7 linked regions of the Homo sapiens genome follow. The protein of the gene in region 1 purifies or fractionates together with the protein of each later gene. This does not show direct contact. Each region holds a gene or a part of one and is shown in the gene's direction. Other genes may lie near its edges.

Region 1 (3,759 bases):
AGGGCAGCTGAGCCAGGGGAAACAGGGTGGAGAATAAAATGGCTCTGAGAACTTTTTTAGTGCAGGTGCAGGGCAGGGCAATTGCTCTGCTGTGTTGAAGAGCTGCTGTTTTCTTGGGCAGAATGTCATGGGCATTAAAGACCCTGAAAGTAGTGTTCATAGATGAGGGTTGGGCATTTCACTTGGAGTGGGAGGTATTATGCATCTTGTTTTTCTCCTCTTCCTTCCAGGAAAAAGCTGCTGGCAATCTTGGAGCAAGGCTTTGACCCACCCATCATTATTTTTGTCAACCAGAAGAAGGGCTGCGACGTGTTGGCCAAATCCCTGGAGAAGATGGGGGTGTGTCTGGCAGGGGAGAACAAAGTCTAGCCTCTGTGGCACTGCTTTCTGAATCTAGCAGGGCCCCCTAGGCTCTTCCTTTCAAGTCTCACCCTTTCTTTAGCCTGTCCAGCAATCAACAAGTTAGGACCAGGGTGAAGGGTGGTTTGAGGGAATAAAGAGAATGGAATCAATTGCTGGGACCCCCTGTCTGCTGCAGTAATGCCAGCCAAAGCTGCCTTGGGTCTTCATCCTGGTGAGGTGGAGCCAGGGAAAGGTTTGAGACCCATATCCTGGCAGTCTGAGGATGTAGAAAAGAGTAGGTGAAAACTGCTTAGGTACGTTGAGAGGAGGTGATATGGTCAGAAGGGAGCTGATAATCAGTGTCCTTTACTCCTGTCACTGGTGCTTGAGGGGAGGGGTGTGTCCCTGTCACTCAGCTCTCCAACTTCCTTAAACTTCTTGATCCCTGCTTTCTACCCTGATCTCGCCCCTAATTCTCTTTGAGGACTTTTCATCTGTCTGGCTCCACCGCTCTCCCAGCTGTTTTGCCTTTGACCTTACTCTGTGTGTCCCTGCCACACCACACCTTTTTCTCTCATCCCTCTCTTCAGCTCACTTGTTCTCTCCTTCTTTCACTGCAATCATTCTCTTGTTTCCTTTCCTTTCTCGTACTCTGCTGCTCTCTCCAACCCTCCCTTCATCTGTGTCCCATTCCTCTGAACTCCTGTGTCTCTCCTTGATTGCATTGCTCACTCTTCACTTCACCATTCTTCCAACAGTACAATGCTTGCACACTGCACGGTGGAAAAGGCCAGGAGCAGCGAGAGTTTGCGTTGTCCAACCTCAAGGCTGGGGCCAAGGATATTTTGGTGGCTACAGATGTGGCTGGTCGTGGTATTGACATCCAAGATGTGTCTATGGTTGTCAACTATGATATGGCCAAAAATATTGAAGGTAAGTTCCAGGGAAAGCAGCTTCAATCCAGGGTGAAGTCAGATTCCTTATGGTGTCCCACTGGAAGTCAGGGTGCTGTCCATGGAAGGCTGTTACTGCCTCCCTCAGTTCCAAGTCTGGGATTGCTTGCTCCCATGAGAAGCACTCCTGTCCTTTATCTTACCTGGGTTTGTTGTCCCAGCAGCTGGGATGACACTTGTGTCCTCAGGAGTGTGAAGAATGAAGCTAGGCAGCTGTGGGTCTTAGTGTGGTAGGGACCACAGTCAGTAGGAGGACAGGGGAGATGGGCACCTGGAGAGGGCACTGTGGGCGCCTCAGGTTCAGGCAGCATGTGCTGTATTCCTGCCTTTGGAGATGGGGTGGGAAGGATGCCTCTAGAAGTGGAGGCATCAGACACGGCTCCCCAGGGCATCTGGGCTATGCTGAGTGACGTTCTTCCCATTCCCCAGATTACATCCACCGCATTGGCCGCACGGGACGAGCAGGCAAGAGTGGGGTGGCCATCACCTTCCTCACAAAAGAGGACTCTGCTGTGTTCTACGAGCTGAAGCAAGCTATCCTGGAAAGCCCAGTGTCTTCCTGTCCCCCCGAACTAGCCAACCACCCAGATGCCCAGCATAAGCCAGGCACCATCCTCACCAAGAAGCGCCGGGAAGAGACCATCTTTGCCTGACACAGCACTCTTCCTGTGGGCTGAGGGCATCTCCAAAGCTGCCTGATGCCTGTTTTTCAGAACCCTCACATCCCTCTTTCCAGGTCCTCACTCTTGGGATATGGGGGCTTAGGAAAACAATCCAACTCCCTAGCCCAGACCCTCAGGTCAGGAGGCCTGCGTGTGGGGCTGCAAAAGGAGAGGACGACGCTGTCGGAGGCAGGGAGAGCAAATTACCACAGCTTCTTGGCCCAGTTCTGCCCTTCTTTGCTTTGGGATTGCACTGGGCCATCAGCTCATGCCAGGCTATGGGGGCAGCCAGTTGGCATTGCTCCCCAGACTGAACAGAAACCTGGCCGCCGGATGGGACCTCCTTTGGCACAGACTTGACTGTGTAACTGCATAAACTGCAGTAGCATCATTGCCCTAGATGCCCCAGGAGACCTGGCACCATGAGGATTACAGACAGTGGAATCTTACTGTCATCTGGACAGCTGTTTTCCTGTTTGGATGGTAAAGGAAGTTGAGAGTCTTTAGACCTGTGCACAGCCCCGCACCAAGGGGTGCTGTATGCTCTAGGCATCCCCTCCCCCAGGGGATTTTCTAAGTAGATGGGGGGACACGGTGAACTGGCTGTGTCCATCTTTGTCACTGAGTGAAATCTCTGTTTTCTATTCTCTGAGAAGATAAGTTTGTATGTTCTGAGAATAAATACATGAATATTAAGACTGTTAGATCTAGTTCTAGTTAAACTTCCCAGCTTCTCCCTGGCAGGAGGGACACCACTGGGTGCGGGGTGGGTTGGCTTGGAAAATGAGAGACAGCCACATTAAGAGAAGAGTAGAGGGGTCTCTGCTGATAGTCTTGAGTCTGTAGGTGGACTTGAGAGGAGATGCAGAAGCCACGCAGGACTGTAATGCATCTTCCGCCCCTGCTCTAGCCTCGCGTAATGTGTGGCCCTGGCCTGGACACCCTCTAGGGAGCTTTAGGCAAAGGTGAGAAAGGAAAGCAGTTGTGAAATTTTGGCAGGTGAGGCAGTTGGAACCACTCTGCCGCTGTGTGCCCAACGCCTGGTCTCGGGAGCTTTGCTTGTGGCTCCCTAGTTGGACCCATTGCTCCTGGGAGGGGATGGTGCAGAACGGGTGGACCCAGCTGTATCAGGCTGTGGTGAGAGGAACGCAGGGCTGCAGTCCTCCCCCCATACCCCTCTTGTTCACATGCTCTTCTTACCCCACAGAAAGAGTTGGCCTAGTACATAGAGTTCAAGTTGTAGCTGCTTCTAGGGCCTTTTTGGCCTGGCGCAAGGATACTGTAAAGCCGTGACCAAGCGTCTTCCCCACATCCCAGGACAAGCCCTTCCGTGCTGCTGGATGTCTCCCTCTTGACACCTGGGCATGAGGAGTGGGGATGCCTGGGAGTGGAGTGCCTCCCCAGCTCTGCCTTTGTCCCCTTCCCGCTGGACAGATCCTCTGAGAGAAGGGCGGCCCAAACACATCTTTCCCTCCACCAGACTTTGGGCCGCATCACAGACAGAACAGAAGCCGGAGGGACTGTGCATGATGTTTATTAGTGATGACAGTGAGGTGAGGCAGGGGCTTGTGGAGCATGCTCTGTAGGTCACACACTAGAGCCATAAGGCAAGAGTAGCCGGGGAGACAGGTCCTCTGTGCCCTGTCTCTCCCCATCTAACCCTAACCTAACAAGCGGCAGCTATGAGTCAGGGAACAAAGTCTGGAGCCCGGTTCTCCAAAGATGTATGAGGGACAAGAACAGAAATGACAGGATGCAGGGCAAAAGAATGAGAAAGGCAAGGAGGCCCCCCTAAGTTCTCT
Region 2 (4,305 bases), on another chromosome or scaffold:
ATCCAAAGATTAGTTGGGTGTGGTGGCTCAGGCCTATAATTTCAGCTACTCAGGAGGTGGAGGTTACAGTGAGCTGAGATTGTGCCACTGCACTCCAGCCTGGGCAACACAATGAGACTGTGTCGCAAAGAAAAAAAAAAGCCACATATGGTAGGCCCACAGCTCGTATCATACTGAATGGGGAAAAACTGGAACGCAACAAGGATGCCCACTTTCACCACTGTGATTCAACATTGTACTGGAAGTCCTAGCTAGAGCAGTCGGACCAGAGAAATAAATAAAAGGGCATCCAGATTGGAAAAGAAGAAGTTAAATTATCCTTGTTTGCAGATGATATGATCTTATATTTAGAAAACCCTAAAGACTCTACCAAAACACTATTGGAACTGACAAATTGATTAAAGTTGCAGGCTATGCCCCCAGGTGTGGTGGCTCACACCTGTAATCCCAGCACTTTGGGAGGCTGAGGGTGGGTGGATCACCTGAGGTCAGGAGTTTGAGACCAGCCTGGCCAACAAAGAGAAACCCTGTCACTATTAAGAATACAAAAATGGCCGGGCACGGTGGCTCACGCCTGTAATCCCAGCACTTTGGGAGGCCGAGGCAGGTGGATGACTGGAGGTCAGGAGTTCGAGACCAGCCTGACCAACGTGGTGAAACCCTGTCTCTACTAAAAAAATTACAAAAGTTGCCAGGCGCTGGGACTCACGCCTGTAATCCCAGCACCTTGGGAGAGTGAGGTGGGTGGATCACTTGAGGTCAGGAGTTTGAGACCAGGCTGACCAACATAGTGAAACCCTGTCTCTACTAAAAATACAAAAATTAGCTGGGTGTAGTGGCACACGTCTGTAATCCCAGCTACTCAGGAGGCTGAGGCAAGAGAATTGCTTGAACCTAGGAGGCAAATGTTGTAGTGAGCTGAGATTGCACCACTGCACTCCAGCCTGAGTGACGGGGCAAGACTCTGTCTCAAAAAAAAAAAAAACCAAAAAACAAAAATTAGCCGGGTGTGGGGGTGCACGCCTGTAGTCCCAGCTAGTTGGGAGGCTGAGGCAGGAGAATCGCTTGAACCCAGGAGGTCGAGGTTGCAGTGAGCTGAGATTGCACCACTGCACTCCAGCCTGGGTAACAGAGTGAGACTCCATCTTAAAATAAAAGAAAATATCCATACTACCCAAAGTAATTTACAGATTCAATGCAATCCGTATCAAAATACTGGGGACATTATTAACAGATAGTGAAAAAATAGCCAGGTGCAGTGGCTCATGCCTGTAATCCCAACACTTTGGGAGGCTGAGGCAGGTGGATCACTTGAGGTCAGCAGTTCGAGACCAGCCTGGCTAAACCCCATCTCTACTAAAAATACAAAAATTAGTTGGGCATGGTGACAGGTGCCTGTAATCCCAGCTACTTGGGAGGCTGAGGCAGGAGAATCACTTGAACCTGGAAGGCAGAGGTTGCAGTCAGCTGAGATCGTGCCATTGCACTCCGGCCTGGGCAACAGAGTGAGACTCCGTCTCAAAAAAAAAAAAAGAAAAAGAAAAAATAATTCTAAAATGTACATGGAGCCAAAAAAGACCCAGAATAGGCAAAGCTATCCTGAGCAAAAGGAACAAAACTGGGGGAACACTTGACTTCAAATTATACTACAGAGCTGTAGTAACAAAAACAGCATAGTACTGGCAGAAAAACAGACACATAGACCAATGGAACAGAATGGACCCAGAAACAAATAGGTACCTCTACAGTGAACTCATTCTTGACAAATGTACCAGGAATATTTATTGGGGAAAAGACAATCTCTTCAATAAACGGTGCTGGGAAAACTGGATATCTATATACAGAAGAATGAAACTAGACCCCTCTCTGTCACCACATACAAAAATCAAATTAAAAGACTTTAAGACCTCAAGCTGAAACTACTAGAAGAAAACATTGGAGAAACTCTACAGGACATTGGACTAGGCAAAGATTTCTTGAGTAATACCCCACAAGCACAGGCAACGAACGGAAGCCAGGTGTGGTGGCTCGCTCCCGTGAGCCAAGAGTGCGCTACTGCACTCCAGCCTGGGCCACAGAGACTGTCTCAAAAAGGAAAAAAATAAAAAGTTCTCATTATAGAATATTAGGAAAATAAGAGTAAGTATGGGTAAAAGCATAACATTTATTCATAAGTCTAGAAAGTAACAGTTAACATTTTGGCTCATTTCCTCTTTCTGTTGCTTTTTTTTATCTTGGCTCACTGCAACCTCTGCCTCCCGGGTTCAAGCAATTCTCCTGCCTCAGCCTCCCAAGTAGCTGGGATTACAGGTGCCTGCCACCACGCCTGGCTAGTTTTTGTATTTTAGTAGAGACGGGGTTTCACCATGTTGGCCAGGATGGTCTCAAACTCCTGGCCTTGTGCTCCATCCACCTCGGCCTCCCAAAGTGCTGGGATTACAGACGTGAGCCACTGCGCCCAGCTCTGTTGCTTTTTATACATGTAATCATAACTTCCTGTGATGTATGTAGAATGTTTTATTTTTTGAAGATAATTTTAGAATAGTAAAATATAGTTCTTCTGGAATTTTATTTATTTTTTATTTTTTTGAGTCTCCCAGGCTCAAGTGATTCTTCTGCCTCAGCCTCCCAAGTAGCCGGGATTATAGGCACGCGCCACCACACCTGGCTAATTTTTGTGTTTTTAGTAGAGACAGGGTTTTACCATGTTGGCCAGGCCGGTCTTGAACTCCTGACCCCAAGTGATCCACCCGCCTCAGCCTCCCAAAGTGTTGGAATTACAGGTATGAGCCACCGTGCCCAGTCTTGCCACACACTTTAAACAACCAGATCTTACGTGATGTAAACTTGCTGCCTCGAGGACAGCACCAGGCCATCAGGGGTCTGCCCTCAAGACTCAAGTGGCCTCCCACCAGGCCCCACCTCAAACATTGGGAATTATAATTCAGCATGAGATTTCATGGGGACACAGATGTAAACCATATCCTTTGGCCTCCCAGAGTGCTGGGATTACAGACATAAGTCAATGTGCCTGGCCTGGACATCTTTTTAGAAGCTCGTTATTAAATCATTGTGCATAAATTTTATACCTATAGTAATTAAACGTGAATGGCATTGCATTTCACTTTTTTTTTTTTTTGGATACAGGATCTTACTCTGTCACCCAGGGTGGAGCGCGGTGGCTTGATTATAGCTCCCTGTAACCTTCAATTCCTGGCTCAAGCGATTCTCCTGCTTCAGCCTCCCAGGTAGCTGGGATTACAAGCACGTGCTACCACACCCAGCTAATTTTTCTTTTTTCTTTTTTTTTTTTTGAGATGGAGTCTCACTCTATTGCCCAGGCTGGAGTGCAATGGCGCAACCTCGGCTTACTGCAACCTCCGCCTCCAGGGTTCAAGTGATTCTCCTGCCTCAGCCTCCCAAGTGGCTGGGATTACAGGCATGCACCGCCACGCCCGGCTGATTTTTGTAGAGATGGGTATTTTTAGTAGAGACGGGGTTTCACCAATGTTAGCCAGGCTGGTCTTGAACTCCTGCCCTTGTGATCTGCCTGCCTTGGCCTCCCAAGGTGCTGGGATTACAGGCTTGAGCCACCACGCCAGGCTCACACCCAGCTAATTTTTGTCTATGTTGCCCAGGCTGGTCTTGAACTCCTGGCCTCAAGTGATCCACCTGCCTCCCCTAACCTTGGCCTCCCAAAGTGCTAGGATTACAGGCATGAGTTACTACACTCAGCCCTACATTTTAAAAATTGATTGGAACCTCCAGGGTTAATGCATTTTAAAAAACATCAGGCTGGGTGCAGTGGCTTACATGTGTAATCCTAGTACCTTGGGAGGCCAAGGCAGGAGGACCACTTGAGTCTAGGAGTTCGAGACCAGCCTGGGCAACATGGTGAAACCCTGTCTCTACAAAAACAAAATTAAAATTAGCCAGTTGCACATGCCCGTAGTTCCAGCTACATTCCCAAGGCTGAGGCAGGAGCATCGCTTGAGCCTAGGAATTAGAGGCTACAGTGAGCTATGCTTATGCCACTGTGCTCCAGCCTGGGCAACAGACCAAGGCCGTGTCTCTAAAACAAAAACAAAACAAAAAACAGCAGGTGACACGGACCCATGAAGAAAGCCATTAAATTAAATGTTTTTAAAAAGTAGTGTACTTGGCCGAGCACGGTGGCTCACACCTATAATCCCAGCACTTTGGGAGGCCGAGGCGGGCAGATCATGAGGTCAGGAGATCGAGACCATCCTGGCCAACATGGTGAAACCCCGTCTCTACTAACAATACAAAAATTAGCTGGGTGTG
Region 3 (4,305 bases), on another chromosome or scaffold:
GAGTAATACTGTCGTGCTGAATGCTCTTGTATGGGTCTGGCAAGATGAGGAGGGAGATTCCTGAGAGTTCAGACTGAGTAGAAGAAGGGCTAAAGATGGCCCCTCTGAAAAGCTGATTGCTACTCATCCTTCAAGTATCAGGCCAAATTTTATTTCCTTGGAGAAACCTTCCCTGATCACCCAGGTGTGGTTAAGCACTTCCCTTCACCTCCTGCTTCCTGTACCTTTGCATAGCCCTTCTGTTTCATTTACCACAGCAGTTATTGTACTTTGTTGAAATTGTTTAATTTGTCTGTCTCATCTGCTATAAGCTCCATTAGAGTAAGAACAATATCTGTCATGTTTAATATTATATTCTTAGTTCCTGGTACAGTGTGGTGTAGTGGATGTTCAATAAATATATAAAATGAGTGTCCTAACCCTGCTTGCTTTCCTGTTAGGTACGAGCTGAGATTGCCAGCAAAGAGAAAGAGGAAGAGGAACTGATGGAAAAGCCCCAGAAAGAAACCAAGTAAGTAAATATTATGGAAAGGTTGAGAATTTAGAAAGGTGGGACCTAAAGTTAGAGCACATTTAGCAAAAATAAAACTTTTTTGTCTTTTCAGGAAAGATGAGGATCCTGAAAATAAAATTGAATTTAAAACACGTCTGGGTGAGTACAGTTTCTATACTAGTGACTATGCATTCTGGATGAATTGTACGGAATTTAATGCTCTGGGAAGGATATGCTTCTCCTTTCCCCCAACCTCCTTTCTTCTTTCTTTCTTTTTGAGACAGTGTCTCACTTAATCGCCCAGGCTGGAGTGCAGTGGTGTGATCATGGCTCAGTGCAGCCTTGACCTCCTGGACTCAGCCTCTTGTGTAGCTGGCACCACAGGCATGTGCCACCATACCTAGCTAATTTTTTTTTTTATTTTTTGCAGAGATGGGGTTCTCTGTGTATTGCCCAGGCCGGTCTCAAACTCCTGGGCTCAAGTGATCCTCCTGCCTTGACCTCCCAAAGAGCTGGGATTCTTTCTTGCCCCCAAAACAACTAACTCCCATAAAATACTCTAATAAGACTCAGACATAGATTTAATTATTTCATATGTCATTTATGTCTCCTCAGGTAGATTGAAAGATTTTTCAGTTTGGGGCTTATGAGTTAAAAGAAGTAACATGGTTAGTGATTAAAAGTTCAAAACTTGGAGTCAGAGAGACCTGAGTTTAAACCTTGATGATGAAACAGCACTAAGTGTATGATTTTAGGCAACTGACTTTGCTGTTTGTTCATCTGTAAAAATTGGGTTACTATTTACCACATGACTTTATTGTAGGGATGAAGAAAAATGAAATCTATAACATGCCTATCATATTGAGCAGGTAGTAGAGCTGTTTTTTCCATCATCATCAATATTACCTTAAACTTCATCCTTCTTCCTCACAGGACTTAATACAATACAGGTGCATAGTGCCCTTGAAGAGGCAATGTAGAAGAGTGGACAGGAGCCCAGGCTTTGGAGTTACATGGCCTGGTTCCATTCTTTGCTCCATTACTTAGTAGATACATGACTTTAGGTAAATTACTTAAATCTCAGCCATAGTATTCTTATCAGTAAAAAGGATAATAATATCCACTTCATAGGGCTGTTGCAAAGATTAAATGACGCAAAGCTTGCATAGCACTTGGCATGGTGGCTAGCACAGAGTAAGCACATAAGTGACAGCTGTTCTTGTAGATCCTGGCTACTTGCTGCTCTTCTCCTTATTGTAGGCCGCAATGTTTACCGAATGCTTTTTAAGAGCAAAGCATATGAGCGGAATGAGTTGTTCCTGCCGGGCCGCATGGCCTATGTGGTAGACCTGGATGATGAGTATGCTGACACAGATATCCCCACCACTCTTATCCGCAGCAAGGCTGATTGCCCCACCATGGAGGTGAGTGAATGGAATCCTGAGAGCCTATCATGTGAGCCTCAAGCCTGGGAATCAGCCTGGCCTCTGCCCCGTGTCCCTTGTCCACCATGTCACCAAGTGCTGTTCACTTTTACCTCCTAAATCTCAACTGAATCCATTCACTTTTCCACTTTTTCACCAATAACATTCCAGTCTAAGCTATAATCATTTGCTGGAACTATTAACTTACTATTTTTTTAGAGACCAAGTCTCACTCTGTCACCCAGGATGGAGTGCAGTGGTGCTATCTTGGCTCACTGCAAACTCCGCCTCCCAGGTTCAAACGATTCTCCTGCCGCAGCCTTCCAAGTAGCTGGGACTACAGGCATTCATCACCACACCTGGTTAATTTTTTTATTTTTAGTAGAGATTGGGTTTTACCACGTTGGCTAGGCTATTCCTGACCTCAAGTGATCCATCCGCCTTGGCCTCCCAAAGTACTGGGATTACAGGCATGAGCCACTGCGCCAGTCCTCTGGAGCTATTAAAAAGGCTTCTAATTGGTTTCCGCACTTCCACTCTGGTTTCCGCACTTCCACTCTGATTTGTTATTATATCTTGTTATTGAGGTGTTATTCACATGCCATATAATTCATCCTTTAAAGAGAATTTTTTTAAAAATTTTTGTGGATATATAGTAGGTATATATATTTATGAGGTACATGAGATGTTTTGATACAGGCATATAATGCATAATAATCACATCATGGAAAATGGGGTATCCATCCCGTTAAACATTTATCTTTTGTGTTACAAACAATCCATTTATACTCTTTTAGTTGTTTTAGAATGTATAAATTATTACTGCCTATAGTCACCCTGTTGTGCTATCATGTAGTAGGCCTTATTCATTCTTTCTATTTTTTTGGTACCTATTAACCACCCCTACCTCCCCTACCCTTCTAAAATATACAGTTTGGCTGGGTGCAGTGGCTCACACCTGTAATCCCAGCACTTTGGGAGGCTGAGGTGTGAGGATCACTTGAGGTTAGGAGTTCAATACCAGGTGGGCCAACATTGTAAAACCTGATCTCTACTAAAAATTAGCCAGGCGTGGCGGCATGTGCCCGTAATCCCAGTTACTCGGAAGGCTGAGGCATGAGAATTGCTTGAACCCAGAAGGTGGAGGTTGCAGTGAGCCAAGATCGTGCCACTGCATTCTAGCCTGGGCGACAGAATGAGACTCTGTCTCCAAATAAATAAATAAAATGTAAATTTTTGTCTCACTACAGTTTAGAAGCTTTTAGTAGTATCTCATTCTTAGGATAAAGAGCAAAATCTTTACCATGACTTTGAGCCTCTGCAACATCTGGCCTTTCTAGAATGTTCTAGACTCCTGACTTTCTTGAATGGTCTTGATTCATTTTGATGCAGGGCTTTTGTGCAGGCTGTTTTATCTCTGGAATATCCTTTCACAGCACTTCGTTTCCCTCCCTTCACCTACTGTATTGTAATTCAGTCTTTAGTTTGTTAAGTGAATGAATGAATAAATGAAGAGATTTCTGCTGAGTGGTTTAACATTCTTGTTTCTTGGTATTTTCAGGCCCAGACCACACTGACCACAAATGACATTGTCATTAGCAAGCTGACCCAGATCCTTTCATACCTGAGGCAGGGAACCCGTAACAAGAAGCTTAAGAAGAAGGATAAAGGTACCTGGAGGGTTAGAGAGAGAAGCCTTACCCACAGAGGACGTTTGGGGATAAAACCAAGGTCTCCTGGAGCTTTCTGTCTCCAGAATATTGAGAGGCTCCTGGGAAGCAGAGAAAAATGGGAGTACTGGAGCATTGGCAAGGAGACAGTTACAGCCAGATTCTGTCTCCTTAACCTACCTAAGAAGCAGTGGTCAGGTCTGAAGCATGAGGGATGGAGAGTGGGTAGCTTATGTCCTATTTATTTATTTTTTTTAAAAGAGATTTTTTGGTGAAAACCAGAAAACCTAGACAGATTCTAAAAAGGCTCTAATACTTGACCGACATTTTATTTTATTTTATTTATTTATTTTTTGAGACGGAGTCTCGCTCTGTCACCCAGGCTGGAGTACAGTGGTGCGATGTCTGCTCACTGCAACCTCTGCCTCCCGGGGTCAAGCGATTCTTCTGCCTCAGCCTCCCAAGTAGGCACTATAGGCACTATAGGCACGCATCACCACGCCTGGCTAATTTTTGTATTTTCAGTAGAGATGGGGTTTCACTGTATTGGCCTGGCTGGCCTCGAACTCCTGACCTTATGATGTGCCCACCTCGGCCTCCCAAAGTGCTGGGATTACAGGCATGAGCCACTCTTCCTGGCCTTATTTTATTATTTTTATTTATTTATTTATTTTGAGACGAGTCTCGTTTTGTCGCCCAGGCTGGAGTGCAGTGATGC
Region 4 (4,956 bases), on another chromosome or scaffold:
TTCTTTCTTACCGGTAGATTTTTTTTTTTTTTGTAATAAAATGCAATACAGACTCCTGGACCCCCAATGTCCCAAGCAGGTACAGGGCTCAGTTGAAGTGAGGAAGGGGATGCAGAGCCAGCCTGCTCAGCTTCCCTGCCCACCCGGCTTCAGCACTGGAAGCCCCACCAGGAGCATGGGGACACAGTTTGAGAACCACAGCCCATACTCTTAGCTCCATGTTTTTGACCGCACCCAGGCTGCCTTCATCTCAGCTAGGACCCAGGCTGGTCCTAGCTCTGGCATGGCCCTTGAGGCATCCCTCTGCACGCACCTTTTCCTCACCAAGAGGGCATGGGGCACAGGGAATTCCTCCCCTTTGTTCTGGGACATGTCTGGAATCCTGGCCAGGCAGCGTGCTGGGACAGACCAAGTGCGGTCCCTCCCATCCAGGAGCTTACAGCCCATGTAGGGAGGGCTGTAAGGGCTCAGTACTGAGCCCCTAGCACAAAGGCCCTGTCCTTAGAAGGCCCTAGTCAGTATTTATTCGCTGAACGGATTCCACCTCCTGCATATCATACAATTGTCTGGGCAGCCATAAAGAGCTTCATTGTGCTTTAGGTGAGTGATCTCAGGCAAGTCACCTGCCCTCTGCATAGTTTCCTTCTCTGTACACCCACCATGGAGCTTCCTACTTTATCAACCTCATAGGTTTAAGAATAAAATAGGATCCTACTTAAGGCAGAGGTGCTGAAAGCAAACTGCATCCTTATTCCTGTATCCCTGGGGTTGAAATTAGCGGTAGCTCCTGTGTCTGGGGCATGTGAGCAGATACTCTTGCTGGGCTCTTTGACCACAGGAGTCTCCCAGAAGCAGGGCTTTATTTTATGTCTCACACAGAGAGGAGTGGCCCAGACCTGCCTCAGGAAGCCTCCATTTGCCCATGGCATAGGACACACCCCATGTTCCTCACTGCTCCATTCTCCTGGGTCCTAGCAGTGACCGTCATGCGTGCCTGTTTTGCATACCTCCCAAACCGAGGTGTAACCTGGGCAGCTTCTAGACACACTGCAAAGCAGGTCATTTAATGTATGACTGTGCAGGAGACTCAGTTTAAAGGAGCTTCAGACGGAAGTGACAGTGGTTGCCAATGACCTTTGACTTATCTCACAGCTCTCCCTTGAGCACCCACTGAATGCCCAGGTATTGGGGACACAGCAGTGCCTAAACACAGAATGTGGTGGTGTGGGGGTAGGGGGCGGCCTTCCCAGAGCACACAGTGTTGGAATGAGACAGAAATAATATGTAACTACAAACTGTCCTCAGAATGGTGAAGAATTTGAACAGGTGCCTGACACAGAATACCAGGAGGGGCCTGACTCTGGGTTGAGTGGGCAGGAAAGCACTCTCTGTGGAGGAGACTTTAAGCTGAGACATGAAGAATGGAGAAGAGGTGTTGTCCTGGAGGGGTGGCAGGAGCTGCAGAAGAGCCACTACAGGCTTAAGGGCCAGTCATCTGAGGAAAGAAAGTTCTAGACATGGGGAGAGGGGAGTGTGCTGGGAGCTGAGGTTGGGTGGGGAGGCGGAGCGGATTGTGAGAGGCTTGTGGGCTGTGTAAAGAGTTCCTGAAGTCTTTCTTTTGCTTTCTGGGTCAGGGCTTGGGTGCAGTGCCCGGGTGGTGTCCTTGAACTGTGAGATGAGACACCTCACTGGACACCTAGCCTGGCTTGCCAGGAGACCGGGGTGGGGGCGCCTCCTTCCAGGGCTGAACCGGAAGTGGAGGAGAGCTGCAATGGCCTTCCCATGCCCAGAAGCTGCAGGAGCAGACAATGGGGTTGGCAAGCTCTGGGTAGGGTACAGGCCGCACAGGTCTGAGGGCAAGATGCAAATGTCACTTTCAGTACCAAGAAAAACGAGGCAATAATCTAGAGTCCTGGGCTGAACGTGGACAGCTCCCGAATCATCAGGTGGGTGGGGATTAGGACAAAATCGTGTATCCTGGGGAGATGGAGGGAAACAGAACTGTGTATTGGTGTGCTAATGTCTCAGTGCTTGGTACAACCCTGGCAACTCTGCCAGGCCGTATTCTTGTTTTATGTACAAAGAAACCGAGGCAGGCTGCATGCTCAAGGTCATGGGATGCAGGCACGACAGGTTTTCTGAACTCAGAACTGACTCAGATTTGCCAGTCGGTTTGGACTTCTCACCCACTCTGAAGATCACAAAAGAAAGAAAGGTCAGGAAGCTCTTAGTGCCTGGTGAATACTGGATGGTAAATGCTCACAGGTCTGGAAGGGAGGAAGGGTTCCCCCCAAACGGTGGGTCTGGTCTGTTCCGGGCTTCACAGGAGACCAAGCAGAGAATAAGACAGTGCGGAGCAGGATGGAGGGCTCAGGGGTCTTCCCTGCAGAGGTTCCTGGGGGCGTGGCAGGGCTGTGGCTGACAGGGTGCTTCCTACGGTTTTTTCCAGGCCCAGAGGCCTTTGGGCCAAAGGCAGCCCCGCCGGTCCTTCTTTGAATCCTTCATCCGGACCCTCATCATCACGTGTGTGGCCCTGGCTGTGGTCCTGTCCTCGGTCTCCATTTGTGATGGGCACTGGCTCCTGGCTGAGGACCGCCTCTTCGGGCTCTGGCACTTCTGCACCACCACCAACCAGACGATCTGCTTCAGAGACCTGGGCCAGGCCCATGTGCCCGGGCTGGCCGTGGGCATGGGCCTGGTACGCAGCGTGGGCGCCTTGGCCGTGGTGGCCGCCATTTTTGGCCTGGAGTTCCTCATGGTGTCCCAGTTGTGCGAGGACAAACACTCACAGTGCAAGTGGGTCATGGGTTCCATCCTCCTCCTGGTGTCTTTCGTCCTCTCCTCCGGCGGGCTCCTGGGTTTTGTGATCCTCCTCAGGAACCAAGTCACACTCATCGGCTTCACCCTAATGTTTTGGTGCGAATTCACTGCCTCCTTCCTCCTCTTCCTGAACGCCATCAGCGGCCTTCACATCAACAGCATCACCCATCCCTGGGAATGACCGTGGAAATTTTAGGCCCCCTCCAGGGACATCAGATTCCACAAGAAAATATGGTCAAAATGGGACTTTTCCAGCATGTGGCCTCTGGTGGGGCTGGGTTGGACAAGGGCCTTGAAACGGCTGCCTGTTTGCCGATAACTTGTGGGTGGTCAGCCAGAAATGGCCCGGGGGCCTCTGCACCTGGTCTGCAGGGCCAGAGGCCAGGAGGGTGCCTCAGTGCCACCAACTGCACAGGCTTAGCCAGATGTTGATTTTAGAGGAAGAAAAAAACATTTTAAAACTCCTTCTTGAATTTTCTTCCCTGGACTGGAATACAGTTGGAAGCACAGGGGTAACTGGTACCTGAGCTAGCTGCACAGCCAAGGATAGTTCATGCCTGTTTCATTGACACGTGCTGGGATAGGGGCTGCAGAATCCCTGGGGCTCCCAGGGTTGTTAAGAATGGATCATTCTTCCAGCTAAGGGTCCAATCAGTGCCTAGGACTTTCTTCCACCAGCTCAAAGGGCCTTCGTATGTATGTCCCTGGCTTCAGCTTTGGTCATGCCAAAGAGGCAGAGTTCAGGATTCCCTCAGAATGCCCTGCACACAGTAGGTTTCCAAACCATTTGACTCGGTTTGCCTCCCTGCCCGTTGTTTAAACCTTACAAACCCTGGATAACCCCATCTTCTAGCAGCTGGCTGTGCCTCTGGGAGCTCTGCCTATCAGAACCCTACCTTAAGGTGGGTTTCCTTCCGAGAAGAGTTCTTGAGCAAGCTCTCCCAGGAGGGCCCACCTGACTGCTAATACACAGCCCTCCCCAAGGCCCGTGTGTGCATGTGTCTGTCTTTTGTGAGGGTTAGACAGCCTCAGGGCACCATTTTTAATCCCAGAACACATTTCAAAGAGCACGTATCTAGACCTGCTGGACTCTGCAGGGGGTGAGGGGGAACAGCGAGAGCTTGGGTAATGATTAACACCCATGCTGGGGATGCATGGAGGTGAAGGGGGCCAGGAACCAGTGGAGATTTCCATCCTTGCCAGCACGTCTGTACTTCTGTTCATTAAAGTGCTCCCTTTCTAGTCCTTTTTCTGCCCAGAAGTAGGTGATGTTATTGCCCTCAGCCCATTTCATTCTACACTGACTCCTTCCCATTCCCTCACCTGTTGAATTCTGGCTCCCAGCAATTGCATGGGTTTTTGGTCTCTGCCCCGGTCTTGTCACTGCTGCAGGTTCCTTTCCTGGTCTGGGCTGAGTGCCTATACCTACGTCTATTGTGATGTTTTAAATTTTTTATTCCAGGATGCATGGAGTCATGAAGCTGTCTGCTTTGTAGGATATAAGGCCATGGGCTTTAAGGTTGAACCACCAAGGTGCCCAGAGTCCATGGAGATCATCCTGGAAAGGTTTCCATGAATTGCTCAGTTTTACAGAGTACAGAGCTCATCAACCACACTGGCGGCATCTTAGCCTGGGAAATGGGAACCTGGAGCAATCTACAAGTTGCAAAGGGGATGTGTAACCCCCTGGTTTCTTCACGGGGAGGGGATGTATGGAGGTGGGGAGTCAGGGCCCAGAGAGGGATGCACTTGTCCAGGGTCACCCAAAGCTGGGAGTAGAGCTGACCCACCCACCAGCAGGATGCCTTTTCCTTGACACGGAGGGGAGTTTCTCTACTTCCCTCCAGAACGCTACCCCCTGAGCACTAGTAGGTTTGGTTTTGCAGAAGCGTTCAAAAATGGAGTCCTTTTTCATCCTCACATGGGGGCAGGGAGTGCAGATATTCAAAGGAACCAAGAACGAGAGTGGAGGGTGAGACTGAAGTCCCCAGGAGCTTAGAGGGGCAGCAGATGGCCCCTGTCCTTCCCTGCCTGGGAGCAGGGAGAGCACAGACACAGCCTTGGAGCATGGGCATTTGAAGTCAAAGGCCCTGGACTGAACTTCCGCCACCTCTTTGCTTAGTAGCTTGGGCAAGT
Region 5 (3,381 bases), on another chromosome or scaffold:
CCTGAAACCTTGCCTGGAAGCCTCCACTCTGCCTTCCTGTCCACCACCATGTTGAGTGGTGGTGACTAAGGGAATGGCTTGGTTGCCCCCTCTTTATTTTTTTTTAGGAAACGGTCTCTTAACAGTGGGAGGATTTAGATACCAGACCCTCCTCCTTTCCCTTTTCATTAGGTGGAGTCTCAGTCTCACCCTGTCAACCTCACCACCCTGGCACATGTGTTGTCTTGTGACCCTTCACAGCCTTTGGGGAAGGAAGTGGGGGCATAAACTAGAAATTAAATATATCAGTATAGTGGTCTTCTTTTTATAGGATGGCATCATGAAAAAGGAGGGAAAAGATAATGTCCCTGAGCATTTTAGTGGAAGAGCAGAAGATGCAGACTCTTCATCCGGGCCCCTCGCTTCCTCCTCACTCTTGGCTAAAATGAGAGCTAGAAACCACCTGATTCTGCCAGAGCGTTTAGAAAGTGAAAGCGGGCACCTGCAGGAAGCTTCTGCCCTGCTGCCCACCACAGAACACGATGACCTTCTGGTGGAGATGAGAAACTTCATCGCTTTCCAGGCCCACACTGATGGCCAGGCCAGCACCAGGGAGATACTGCAGGAGTTTGAATCCAAGTTATCTGCATCACAGTCTTGTGTCTTCCGAGAACTATTGAGAAATCTGTGCACTTTCCATAGAACTTCTGGTGGTGAAGGAATTTGGAAACTCAAGCCAGAATACTGCTAAACAACATTGCTTCCTAAACTTTCAAGTCCCTTTTTCTAACGGGCATTTCTGATTATTAATTTATTATTAATAATCATGTTTGTCAATGGAAGTTGGCTGCACTTGATGTTTGTTTGCATGATGTCTACCTCAGAATTAAAACTTTAAGGAAGAAGAAACTCTTCTCTGAAAGTTAAAAGTTTTAATAATGCTAGCTAAAGGAGAAAATACTTGGATTGATTTTTTTTTTTTTGGCAATCTAATTATATTGTAAATCAGGTACCTAACAGTTACTCCTTGGAGCACATTTGTTCCTTTACCCAAAAGATGCTGTCAGGGAGCACAGTTAGAAGTTTGCAGAACAGAAATCTCAATATTTTTTTTTATTGGTGCTAAAAACAGGTCTTACATTCAGTCAGACCTGTTCAATAAGTTCATCAATATCTGATAACAGCATTATTTTGATGCTTAAACTTTAAACATTTATATTTACCATTTGCCACCCACAAAGGTCAGGTTTGTTATTTGTTGTTTGATAATTATATTAATTTTCTTGGAAAGATCCTCTTTTCAAGGTACTGGTAAATTGGTGAGTATTTTTATTAGTAAAGCATGAAATAGTATGGTAATAAATGATAAGACATGTATTTGTGGAAAGCTGTAGGGTATTCAGTTTACCCTGGCTTTCCTTTAAGCAGAGGGCATCTTTTTCTCTCCTACAGTCACAAAATGTGTTATCATTAAAAAAAATCAAATTAAAGCCAAAAGTAGGTACATAAAAACCACACACATGCATGCACACAAACATCACTGCAGCCCACAGCAGACCCAGCCGTTGTTACCATGAAGTGACACCACTCCAGGCCTCTCTTGTCTGCAGGCTGGCAGGCTGTCTTCTCTCCAGTTGCCTTCGTCTTGCGCCTGCCTTTGCATTCCTTGCGACGGGCTTTCTTGTTTCTGCGGTTTGGATTCCAGCCAAGGCTGTTTGTATCTCACTACTGTTTATGTGTTTGTGGTTCTGTGATGGTGTTGCTTTGATCCTCAGTTTATTTTCTTACCCATGTTTTTCTTGTTTCCTTCTCAGGATGATTTTATCATCTCATCTTTGAAGTGTTGTTTTCCGAAATTCATCGTATTCCTGAAATTTCTTCTTAGCTGTCTTAGTGCAGTTTGTTTCTTGGATTTGTATTCTCTGGCATGCTCTTTTCCTCTCTCTCATTTTTCTGTAGTATGCCTGCCCTCCTACCCTGCTATTTCTTTACATCTCTCTCATGCTTAACATGGATAGCTGTGTCCAGATCTTCTGTCTGCTCATCCATGTGACTCAGAGAGGAGGGTTCTGGGCAGGGGGGCCTTGCCGGACTGCATGAGAGGACATGAGTTTTGCTTTCTCTGCTCTAATATTTTGCTTAAGCCAAGAATCCTTTTCTTAGAGATGTTCTATATGATTCCTGTCAGGATTTTCTAGTTTTTTTTGGATTATAGCTTGTTCATTTCTTTTGTTTTTAGTTTGGTTTATATATAATGAGGGAAGAAGATGATTACATTATTTTTGTCACTTTGCCATCATTGTTTAGAAGTCATAGAAAGAATTTTTAAATAGGCCAATAAGTCTTAAACTTGAGTACTTGGCTTAGAAGAAAGTCAAAACTCCTTCCTTTTTGACTAAGTGGTTTGTTTCTGGGGAGCTCTTAATTTCTATTTTTATAATCATTAGCCTATAAGGAAATTGTGTCTTCCTTGTTCTCAGGGTGATCTGCTGACCTTGTTCACTCATGAAGCATTTGGGTATCATACTTATAGTGTCTGAAACATAAACTGTATTGAGCTAGACAAGGTATAGCCTCCTCTTCAAGTAGCAAATACTATCAAAAGCTATAATGCAGTAGGAGCAAGGTGGTCCTTGTTCCAGTTTTTGTCTCAGTTCTGCTGCTGATGTACCATGATCTTGGGAAGGTGGTGTCTCAGTGTGGAGATCTGACACATTGTTACCGTGCCTCCTGGCTGGAGGGACTTGGAGAACAATGCAGTTAAGTAGAATGGTTTTAACAATACAGAGAAATTTATTCATTTAGATAAAAATCTGATTTTTAGAACTTTAAAAGCTTTGTACAGTGTAAATAGATTTAATGTATTTAACATGCTTTATCAGCACAAATAAAGGATTTTAAAATTTTGTCAAAAAATTAAATGTTAATACTATCACCATTAAAAATGTTCAAGCAATAGTCTGCCTCCCCACCCCCACACCATCTTGCACCTGTTCCACAGCTAAGTACAGCCCTAGGTTTGGTGTGTATTCTCCATGCATTTAGAGAATCACATGACACAGACTGCTGCTATAATGTCATTTTCCCATTCTTCCTTTACTAATAAAATTTTTGAGTTTTACCTGGACGTCTGGCTGCTCAGCTTAAGACTACTTCTCAGCCTCTCTTATAGTTAATTGTGGCCATATGACTAAGTTTTAAACTTCCCAATTGGCCCTTTAAAGAAGCAGGGTATGCACTCTCCTTGACATTCCCCTTTCTTGCTGGCTGGGAGGCCAATGGGAGCTTCAGTAGTGACCTGGCATCTCAAGAGATGGAAGTGATGTGTTGAGGAAGGAGAAGTTGGCCTGCCAGTCTTGAACTGCTCTCCTTTGACCTGTTATTTAAGAGTAAAATAAAATA
Region 6 (3,876 bases), on another chromosome or scaffold:
TTACAGTTTTTCTCACTTAAATAAAGAAGCAATTAGTGGTTCTCTCTACAAATTTTTAATTGCCCGTTATTAAACAATAACTTCCATGCTCTGATCTAACCTCTGAGAGCTTCACCTTCTATTATGTGTAAGTACTTCTCAAAGAAATCTTAATGTACTGTGTACGTAAAAACAAGATGAGATTGCTTGGTTTATATGGTAGAATCTTATCTCTGCTACCTGAAGAGGTGGTATCCACATCTTTGATAACTAGAATAATAGCACTGCACATATTTTTAAGGCAGTTTAACATGAAAAGTGTCTCCTAGCTAAGCCCTATCATGCCATGGCTAAGATACGCAGAATGATATGCTCTTACAGTCCCCGTAAGGCAGTATAGACTACCAAAAATCAATGTCTTGAACCTCTTGGATTAGCGTATTTCCCACTTGCACTTGTGCAGAATATTGGGCTTTTTAAATGTTCTCAGTTGTGTAAAGGGTCAGTATAATATCACTTAGGGCCACAAACCATCTAGGCACAGTGTGTTGGAGACATACAAATGTTTGAGACTTGGCAAAAAAAATTGCTGACACCAAAATATGAGAATAAAGCTGCCAAAACAAATTGAATAAATATTTATTTAAATGTCTATAAAAGTTAATATTATCATTAACACTGGCATCATTGTTAGATTTAGTAGTCATAAGCATCTTAACATTTGAAAATAATTTATAGATTTCTCTTACTTTGTAAGAATTCCTAAACATACATGACTGCCCAGATATCTATCCCTCAGATATCTACCCCTTTTGTCCATGAGGGAATAAATCTGTCCTATGAATGCTGATCAGCTTCCATTAGAATAAAAATTAGAGTATTTTAATTGAATAAAACACATGCCTTAAAAAAAAAAAGTGGATCTTGATATCATCATCCCCAAAATAGCTCATAACTTGTCTCCTCTTCACAATCCACAGCCACCATTTAAATCCACATCATCATCTCATTCTTTAACTTTTATAGTAGCCCTCTGGTTGTTCTTCCTGATTTTCCTTTTGCATTTATCTAGTCCAGGACCCATTCAGCAGCCAAAACAATATTTTTCAAGAATAATTAGACTTTACTGACCATCTGACCATTACAGAATAACTGGTACCAAATTTGCCCTCCCACCATAAACAGCTATAGAACTTGACAAGATGTGTAAGACATTGTTTTCAGGAATGTAACAATAGGCAGCTCAGGAGGGTGATCCTTTGGAGAAGGGAAATAAAAGGTGAGCCCCACAGTTACCCAGCTTTCTGTATGAGGGCACTTTCCTGCTGTGGTGCTGGGAAGTGATACCCATGCAGAGTGGTGATGTGGCTGTGTTAAGGAAGAAATACCCCAAGTTCTGGCCTGCAGTGTCTCACTGTCTTTTTGCTCACTATACACCAGCCCCTCTGGCCTTTTTTCTGATCTTCAAAGACACCAAGCCCTTCTCTCTCAGGATCTTTGTCTTTTCCCTCTGGCCAGAGAACCATTCTTCCTTTTCACCTGCCTGGCTCCTTCTAAGTCTTCAGGGCTTAAATTTCACCTCCTAGAGAAGCCATCTCTAGCCACCCAATCTAAAGTAGATGTTTTTCCCTTCCTGATCCCCATCATTCTTTGTCAGCACCTTGTATAGTCCTTTATAGCACATACTACAATTTGTGATTATGCATTATTTTGGAATTTATTTGTTTATAATCTGTCAACTCCATTAGCAACATATAATTGCCACTTGGGACAGGAACCATATCTATTTGATTCTGCCTGTGTACCCAGTGCTTAGCAATTAGTAGTGCTCAATAAATACTGGTTAAATAAATGGATCTCCAACTCTAAAACAAATTAACCTAAGAACAGTTTAATTCATGCATATTTTATCCTCTGTATATTTTTCTTAGTGACATCTGTTTTTGGCTTTGTTCAGAGAAGTGAAATGTTCAGAATTATAGATAAGTTAAAATAAATGGAAATTGAAAAACAATAGGTGTGGAACAAATGGGTATAAAAAAGGCTACATAACAATCTCCTATTCATCTTGTTTTTTTTTAATTTTACTTTTTAATTTCAGCTTCTGATCTAATCCATTTCATATTATCCCTGTAACCTTACTGCTAATCAGTCACTCCTTGGCCTTCTTTCTTAGGGAAGAAGCTACTGAAATGTAACTAAGTAAGCACTACTCTGCTGGCTCCTTCAAGGCAGAAACAATGATTTATTAGTTGTATCCCCAGCACTTGGTACAGTGTATCGCACCTGGTGAATACTCAGTAAAGGTGGAATAAATTGGGAGTCTATGGTTTGCATGATGGTATAAGAAATCCTAGAGTTTTATTTTTTGCCAAAGATACATCGTACCTTTTTTTCAAACTTTTATATATATATTTTAATATTTTAAGTAGCTCCGAGACAACCTTTGAGTTCATCAACTGATGAATGGATAAATAAAATGTGGTAGATCCATACAATGGGACATTATTTAGCAATAAAGAATAATGAAGTACTGATACATGCTGCAACATGGATGAACCTTAAAAACATTATGTGGCTGGGCACGGTGGCTCACGCCTGTAATCCTAGCACTTTGGGAGGCCAAGGCGGGCTGATCACTTGAGGACAGGAGTTCGAGATCACCCTGGCCAACATGGCAAGACACCGTCTCTACTGAAAATACAAAAATTAGCCGAGTGTGCATGGTGGTGTGCACCTGTAATCCCAGATACTCGGGAGGCTGAAGCAGGAGAATCACTTGAACCTAGGAGGTAGAGGTTGCAGTGAGCCAAGATTGTGCCACTGCACTCCCACCTGGGTGACAGAGTAAGACTCTGTCTCAAAAGAAAAAATTATGCTAAATGAAAGAACCAGTCATGAAAGACCACATATTGTATGATTCCTTTTATCTGAAATGTCTAGAATAGGCAAATCCATAGAGAAAGAAGATTAATTGTTACCTAGGATGGAAAGGTTGGAAGGAATGGGGAATGATTGCTAATGGTATGAGGTTTTGTGGGGGATGATGAAAATGTTCTAAAGTTGATTCTGGTAATAATTGCACAACTCCATGGATATGTGAAAAGCCATTGAATTATGTACTTTAAAAGGGTAAATTGTATGGTATATGAATTCTATAACTCAATAAGGCTATTTTTCTAAAGATAACCTTTGAATTTACTTTTCATACCTAAATTGGCCAACTAAATGTTGGATATTTGTTGTAAGCTTGTTTTGATTAATAGAATTTAGATATATGAAATATATGTATATTTCAATAGTATAGGCACGTAAGTACCAATTTCTTAAGAAAAATGTGCTTATCATAAGAAATGATTGACATTTTCTCAGCATTTTTCTATTTGTTATTCCTAAAACAAATACAATATAGTTATTCCTATATTCTATTTCTATATATCTATAACTATATTCCTAAATATAGTTATTCCTAAACAAACAAATATAAAAATAAAATAACTGTATTTCTAAAACAAACAAATACAAAAAGTAGGGCCTTTTTGGAGATGGGTATCATCTCAAAGGAGACTAATTGAACAGTTGTTATTCAAAATCAGAAATATTTTTGAAGTAAAACTCTAATTGTGTATTGTGTTGAAATTAATATGTGTTGTTTCTTTCAGTCAGTGGAACCTAGTGAAGTGAAACAAGCAACTTCAACATCAGGACCAGCATCAGCAGTTGCTGATCCACCCAGTACTGAAAAAGAAATAGATCCTACCAGCATCCCTACTGCTATCAAGTACCAAGATGACAATTCCCTGGCCCATCCAAATGTAATATCCTTAAACTTTACGAATGTCAGTTGAAGTCTAATTTACTGAAATTATTTCAATCTGTTATCCTTTTGTGCTAACA
Region 7 (4,305 bases), on another chromosome or scaffold:
CAACCTTGTTTACTTAGTGCAGCCTAATTGAAAATTAGAGATCTTGGAGCTTTTTTTTTTTTTTTTAAAGAAACAATTTCCTTGCTGTTGTGTCAGGTAGATCTAAAAATGGTAACAGCATGTACTTGAATTGTGTTTAAGAAAATAGAGCTTCACAAAGGAGCTCAAAAACGTGCTAAGATTCTGTCAGTCTTCTTATTCTTTGGGCATATTTTTTCATTCTCCTTTAGAGTATAGAAAAGACATTATCCGTATTTTATGTTAAAACCATTATCTGTTTGGCCCTAATTGGTTTTTTCCCCCATTTTCATTCAAAACACCAATACAAATAAATGCTTTTGTTGATCACAGTGAAAGAGTTTGAGTTTAGGGACTGGGACATGTTGTGGGTAGGGGGAGGGAAGCTATAACTTAACAAATGACACAACTCCAAGATAGGAGAGTTTTGAGCTTCATCCTTTGGATAAAGCAAACTTTTTGTAATTTCTTTTTAAATGTTTCTCTAGTTTGCTTTATGTACTGTGTTTTTTAGTAAGTCAGTTGGTGCTTACAATTCTTGAAATTTTGTATACAAATGGATAGAAATTGAATTTGTACTTCCATCATTATGACATGTGTTATGGAAAACCAGAATTAGAAACCTCTTGTTAAATAGTTCAGCGGAGGTCCTTTAACTGGATGTTTTAAACCGTTTAGTTCCTTTTTTTCCGTTACCCTCCATATTCTTGAGTGCGCTAATAGGAATTTTCCTAGTGTGAATTCCTTGTGGTTTCTTTTGTCATTTCTTTGTTCCCTTTGTCAGCATTTCTCAAATGGAAGTGTGCATCACAATTACCTGATACTCGTTTAACATACAGATTTTCTGGTTCTATCCCCAGTGATTCTTACTAGGTCTTCAGCATCCAGAAATTTGCATGTTAAACAATCTCTCCAGGTGATCAAATGCAAATAGCTCTAATGTTATTCTTTCAGAAAGCAATGCTTTGCTATACATGGTCTCTAAGTCAGAGAGACATAGGATCCCTGAAAAAGCATCCTCCTATATGTCAGATGGGTTTTGGAGAGGCATAAACAGATGGTAATACGGCCCTCATAGCTGAGGTAGTCTCAGCTATGAGCCCTATAAATGGCTATGACCTTCTGTTTTTGCCACTGAATTTTAAATTGGATTATTGACATTAGCCACCTACATGACTCATGCATCCCTCCCAGATCACTTTTGATCCAGACAGAACCAGATTTCTGGGGCAGATTACAGGTAACCATTATACTACAAAGGGAGGTAATTTTCTTTTAAGTTAGATGGTTTGTGTGAGCTGTACATTTCATCAAATACCTTTTCCCATCTGTAATTTGTTCTTGAGAATATGGAGCTATTTACTTAGAGGGGATTTGAAAGAAGAGTTGAATTATTTATATTAGTTTGATTGAAAGTTGGAAAGAAATTAAAAGATACTGGGAAAGTGAAAAATACAGTCCTAGAGGGAGTATACATTAATTGCCAAAGATTTGAGGAAAATGACATGGGATGCTGGAGAATCAATTCATTTTCTGATCTGTTTTTTAAAGAAGTAAAGAATAGTCTGAAATTCTTCTGTTTAGATTTATAAGCACTTATCTGCAATTACTGTGTATAATTCTTACAGAAATGGAGGAGGCTATCACTTGAGTCATGTTAGACTCACCTGTCTCCTCCAGTGCACATTTTACAAAACCTATACATGCAGTGATGTTTTAAGTATAATGTTTTTTTTTTTTTTTTTTTTTTGAGACGGAGTCTCGCTTTGTTGCCCAGGCTGGAGTGCAATGGCGCAATCTCGGCTCACCGCCACCTCCGCCTCCCGGGTTCAAGCAATTCTCCTGCCTCAGCTACGCCTGGCTGATTTTTGTATTTTTTTTAGTAGAGACGGGGTTTCACCATGTTGGTCAGGCTGGTCTTGAACTCCTGACCTCGTGATCCACCAGCCTCAGCCTCCCAAAGTGCTGGGATTACAGGCGTGAGCCACCGTGCCCAGCCGTATAATGATATTTTTAAAAATATTTCTTGAAGGAAAACTCTTGAGTCTGGAATTATTTTTATAGTTTGGGATATTTTAGCTAATTCATCTGGGGTGTGTAGTGAACTCACATCTAGGGCTGGGAAATCTTTCTGGTTTAGTAATTTTTCATTGTAATTGATGCACTCAGGAACATACCTCCTTCCTAATTTCAGAGCTATTTTGAAATATGAATGAAAAACTCAGTAAAAAAAAAAGTCAACTTTTAAAAATAGTAGGGTCTGGTCAGGCACGGTGGCTCTCGCCTGTAATCCCAGCACTTTGAGAGGCCGAGGCGGAGTTTGAGACCAGCTTGGCCAACATGGCAAAACCCCGTCTCTAAAAATACAAAAATTAGCTGGTGGCGGGTGCCTGTAATCCCAGCTACTCAGGAGGAGGCTGAGGCGGGAGAATCGCTTGAACCTGGGCGGCGGAGGTTGCAGTGAACTGAGGTTGTGCCATTGCACTCCATTCTGGGCGACAAGAGCAAGACTCCGTCTCAATAAATAAATAGATAGATAGATAGTAAGGTCTGATAATTAGGATATTCTGAAGTAAGAGCTAAATTTTGGTTTTGTTTTTCCTGTTGCTGATTTTGGTGACACATCTCTGTTGATATCAGTAAATATCAATTGATAAGTAAAAAAATATGCAAGTCTTAACTTGGATGTCTTTCATCTTGCATGTGCTCACCTCCCTCCCCTCTCACCCAGTCGTTTGGGTTGTTTGCCTCCCCTTACTGTCATATCTTCATAGTGTGGAACTAAAACGTAGAAATGAGGGAAGTATAGTGGACAGATGTTTCCCCCACCCCTTCTTTTACCTAGGCAAGAGATTAGGGGAGTCTTTTTTGATTAAAGAGAGTAGGTCCAAAATAAAGACCCTGAAACACTAAAATCTGGGGATCCCCAACAAAAGAACTGGCTCAGTACCTAGTGATCCGACGGAGACACCTCTGTTAGACAGCTCCTGCCCACACACACAGCTTCCAGTCTTGCTCTTCTATATGAACAGGCAGTTAACGATGATCATAAGGACCAACCTGAGCAGCAGAACCAAAGGGACTGAGGAAACAGACAGTGCTGGTACAAGTATGCAAGTTTTCTGTAAACAGATTACTTTCAAACAGTTGGGAGCCCCAGGGAGATAATAGAAGGTATCCTACTCAACAGGAGTATATAGAATGCTGTAGAAGAGGAATATTGTAAGAACAAGAACTATCTCTTGAAAACTAAAAATATGATAACTGAAATATAAATTTAAATAGGATTGGAAGCTAAAGCTAGGAAATTACCCTAGAATGTTTTTTGAGAAATGGAAAATACGAAGACCAAAAAAATAAAATAAAACTATGCTGTGAAAGAGAAAGATTAGCATTTGAGAAGGCGGAAGTTGGTCCTGCTCAGATGCGGTTTTCAGATGCCTTATTCTAAAAATAGTGATAGAAAACAAATTTCTACAAAGCAAAATTACAATAAATTTATTAAACTCTTGCAACAAAGCTGTTTTCTTATGTCTTCCTATGTTTTCCTGCTGTCATTCAATGTGATGCTGAAGTTCTTCCTCCTTAAAAATGTAATATTTTTCCCTTTGCACAGGTAATTTAGAGTTTTAATTTATTTGGTCATCATGATAGCTATTCCTGATAGCTGTCCTGTTACTTAGACATAAAAATAGTGAGTAAGCCCAATTACATATTTGTAGGGTTGTTGAACTCTTAAAAAGAAATCACTTCTTTAATTTTTCTACTTTTTAAAATGGGAACGCAGAATAATAATGAAATTTGTTCTAAACCAAAAACCTACCTGGTTTACCAGTTATTGCAGAATCTTGCCGTTGAGATTAGCAAGCAGTCTGTCGTAATGGCTTATTCTGTGCAAACTCTTTCCTCAAGATTGTTGAAAGATGGCTTTTAATTTTAACTGTTGTTGTTTTGCAGACAAAGCTCTGATGGCACCAAATCTTGACTCCTTTGGACGCGATCGGGCACTGTATCAAGAGCATGCAAAACGTCGCATTGCAGAGCGGGAGGCCAGGAGGTAATTCTCAAAACCCTTGCTCTGGCTTGTTTGGGAAGGGAGGAGTCTCTGTTATCTAGTTTGGGAACTTGATGTTTATTATTTAGGACTCGTCGTAGACAAGCCAGAGAACAAACCGGTAAGATGGCAGATCACCTTGAAGGCCTTTCCAGTGATGATGAAGAAACTTCTACAGATATTACTAATTTCAATCTGGAAAAAGGTTAGACATTTATTTGGAAATAAGACTC

What was found.
Region 2: the proteins of DDX23 (region 1) and PRPF6 purify together in Homo sapiens (affinity purification with mass spectrometry; 5 studies listed by BioGRID and IntAct, with this or other methods). This does not show direct contact.
Region 3: the proteins of DDX23 (region 1) and IK purify together in Homo sapiens (affinity purification with mass spectrometry; 3 studies listed by BioGRID and IntAct, with this or other methods). This does not show direct contact.
Region 4: the proteins of DDX23 (region 1) and TMEM37 fractionate together in Homo sapiens (co-fractionation; one large-scale study listed by BioGRID). This does not show direct contact.
Region 5: the proteins of DDX23 (region 1) and ERCC6 purify together in Homo sapiens (affinity purification with western blotting; one study listed by BioGRID). This does not show direct contact.
Region 6: the proteins of DDX23 (region 1) and RSRC1 purify together in Homo sapiens (affinity purification with mass spectrometry; 2 studies listed by BioGRID and IntAct, with this or other methods). This does not show direct contact.
Region 7: the proteins of DDX23 (region 1) and PAXBP1 purify together in Homo sapiens (affinity purification with mass spectrometry; 3 studies listed by BioGRID and IntAct, with this or other methods). This does not show direct contact.

The regions. Positions count from the first base shown.
Region 1 is NC_000012.12:48,828,658-48,832,416, reverse strand, and holds the end of DDX23 (probable ATP-dependent RNA helicase DDX23), read left to right. Parts: intron 1-230; coding exon 231-339; intron 340-1,100; coding exon 1,101-1,275; intron 1,276-1,724; coding exon 1,725-1,948; 3' UTR 1,949-2,661; downstream 2,662-3,759. UniProt on the Homo sapiens protein: Involved in pre-mRNA splicing and its phosphorylated form (by SRPK2) is required for spliceosomal B complex formation.
Region 2 is NC_000020.11:63,987,349-63,991,653, forward strand, and holds part of PRPF6 (pre-mRNA-processing factor 6), read left to right. Parts: intron 1-4,305. UniProt on the Homo sapiens protein: Involved in pre-mRNA splicing as component of the U4/U6-U5 tri-snRNP complex, one of the building blocks of the spliceosome.
Region 3 is NC_000005.10:140,654,076-140,658,380, forward strand, and holds part of IK (protein Red), read left to right. Parts: intron 1-440; coding exon 441-511; intron 512-605; coding exon 606-652; intron 653-1,753; coding exon 1,754-1,917; intron 1,918-3,478; coding exon 3,479-3,587; intron 3,588-4,305. UniProt on the Homo sapiens protein: Involved in pre-mRNA splicing as a component of the spliceosome. Auxiliary spliceosomal protein that regulates selection of alternative splice sites in a small set of target pre-mRNA species. Required for normal mitotic cell cycle progression.
Region 4 is NC_000002.12:119,434,440-119,439,395, forward strand, and holds the end of TMEM37 (voltage-dependent calcium channel gamma-like subunit), read left to right. Parts: intron 1-1,851; exon of another isoform or gene 1,852-1,946; intron 1,947-2,449; coding exon 2,450-3,001; 3' UTR 3,002-4,065; downstream 4,066-4,956. UniProt on the Homo sapiens protein: Thought to stabilize the calcium channel in an inactivated (closed) state. Modulates calcium current when coexpressed with CACNA1G.
Region 5 is NC_000010.11:49,456,164-49,459,544, reverse strand, and holds part of ERCC6 (DNA excision repair protein ERCC-6), read left to right. Parts: intron 1-310; coding exon 311-730; 3' UTR 731-3,381. UniProt on the Homo sapiens protein: Involved in repair of DNA damage following UV irradiation, acting either in the absence of ERCC6 or synergistically with ERCC6. Involved in the regulation of gene expression.
Region 6 is NC_000003.12:158,539,694-158,543,569, forward strand, and holds part of RSRC1 (serine/Arginine-related protein 53), read left to right. Parts: intron 1-3,641; coding exon 3,642-3,794; intron 3,795-3,876. UniProt on the Homo sapiens protein: Has a role in alternative splicing and transcription regulation. Involved in both constitutive and alternative pre-mRNA splicing. May have a role in the recognition of the 3' splice site during the second step of splicing.
Region 7 is NC_000021.9:32,750,889-32,755,193, reverse strand, and holds part of PAXBP1 (PAX3- and PAX7-binding protein 1), read left to right. Parts: exon of another isoform or gene 1-3,078; intron 3,079-3,841; exon of another isoform or gene 3,842-3,940; intron 3,941-3,975; coding exon 3,976-4,075; intron 4,076-4,161; coding exon 4,162-4,277; intron 4,278-4,305. UniProt on the Homo sapiens protein: Adapter protein linking the transcription factors PAX3 and PAX7 to the histone methylation machinery and involved in myogenesis.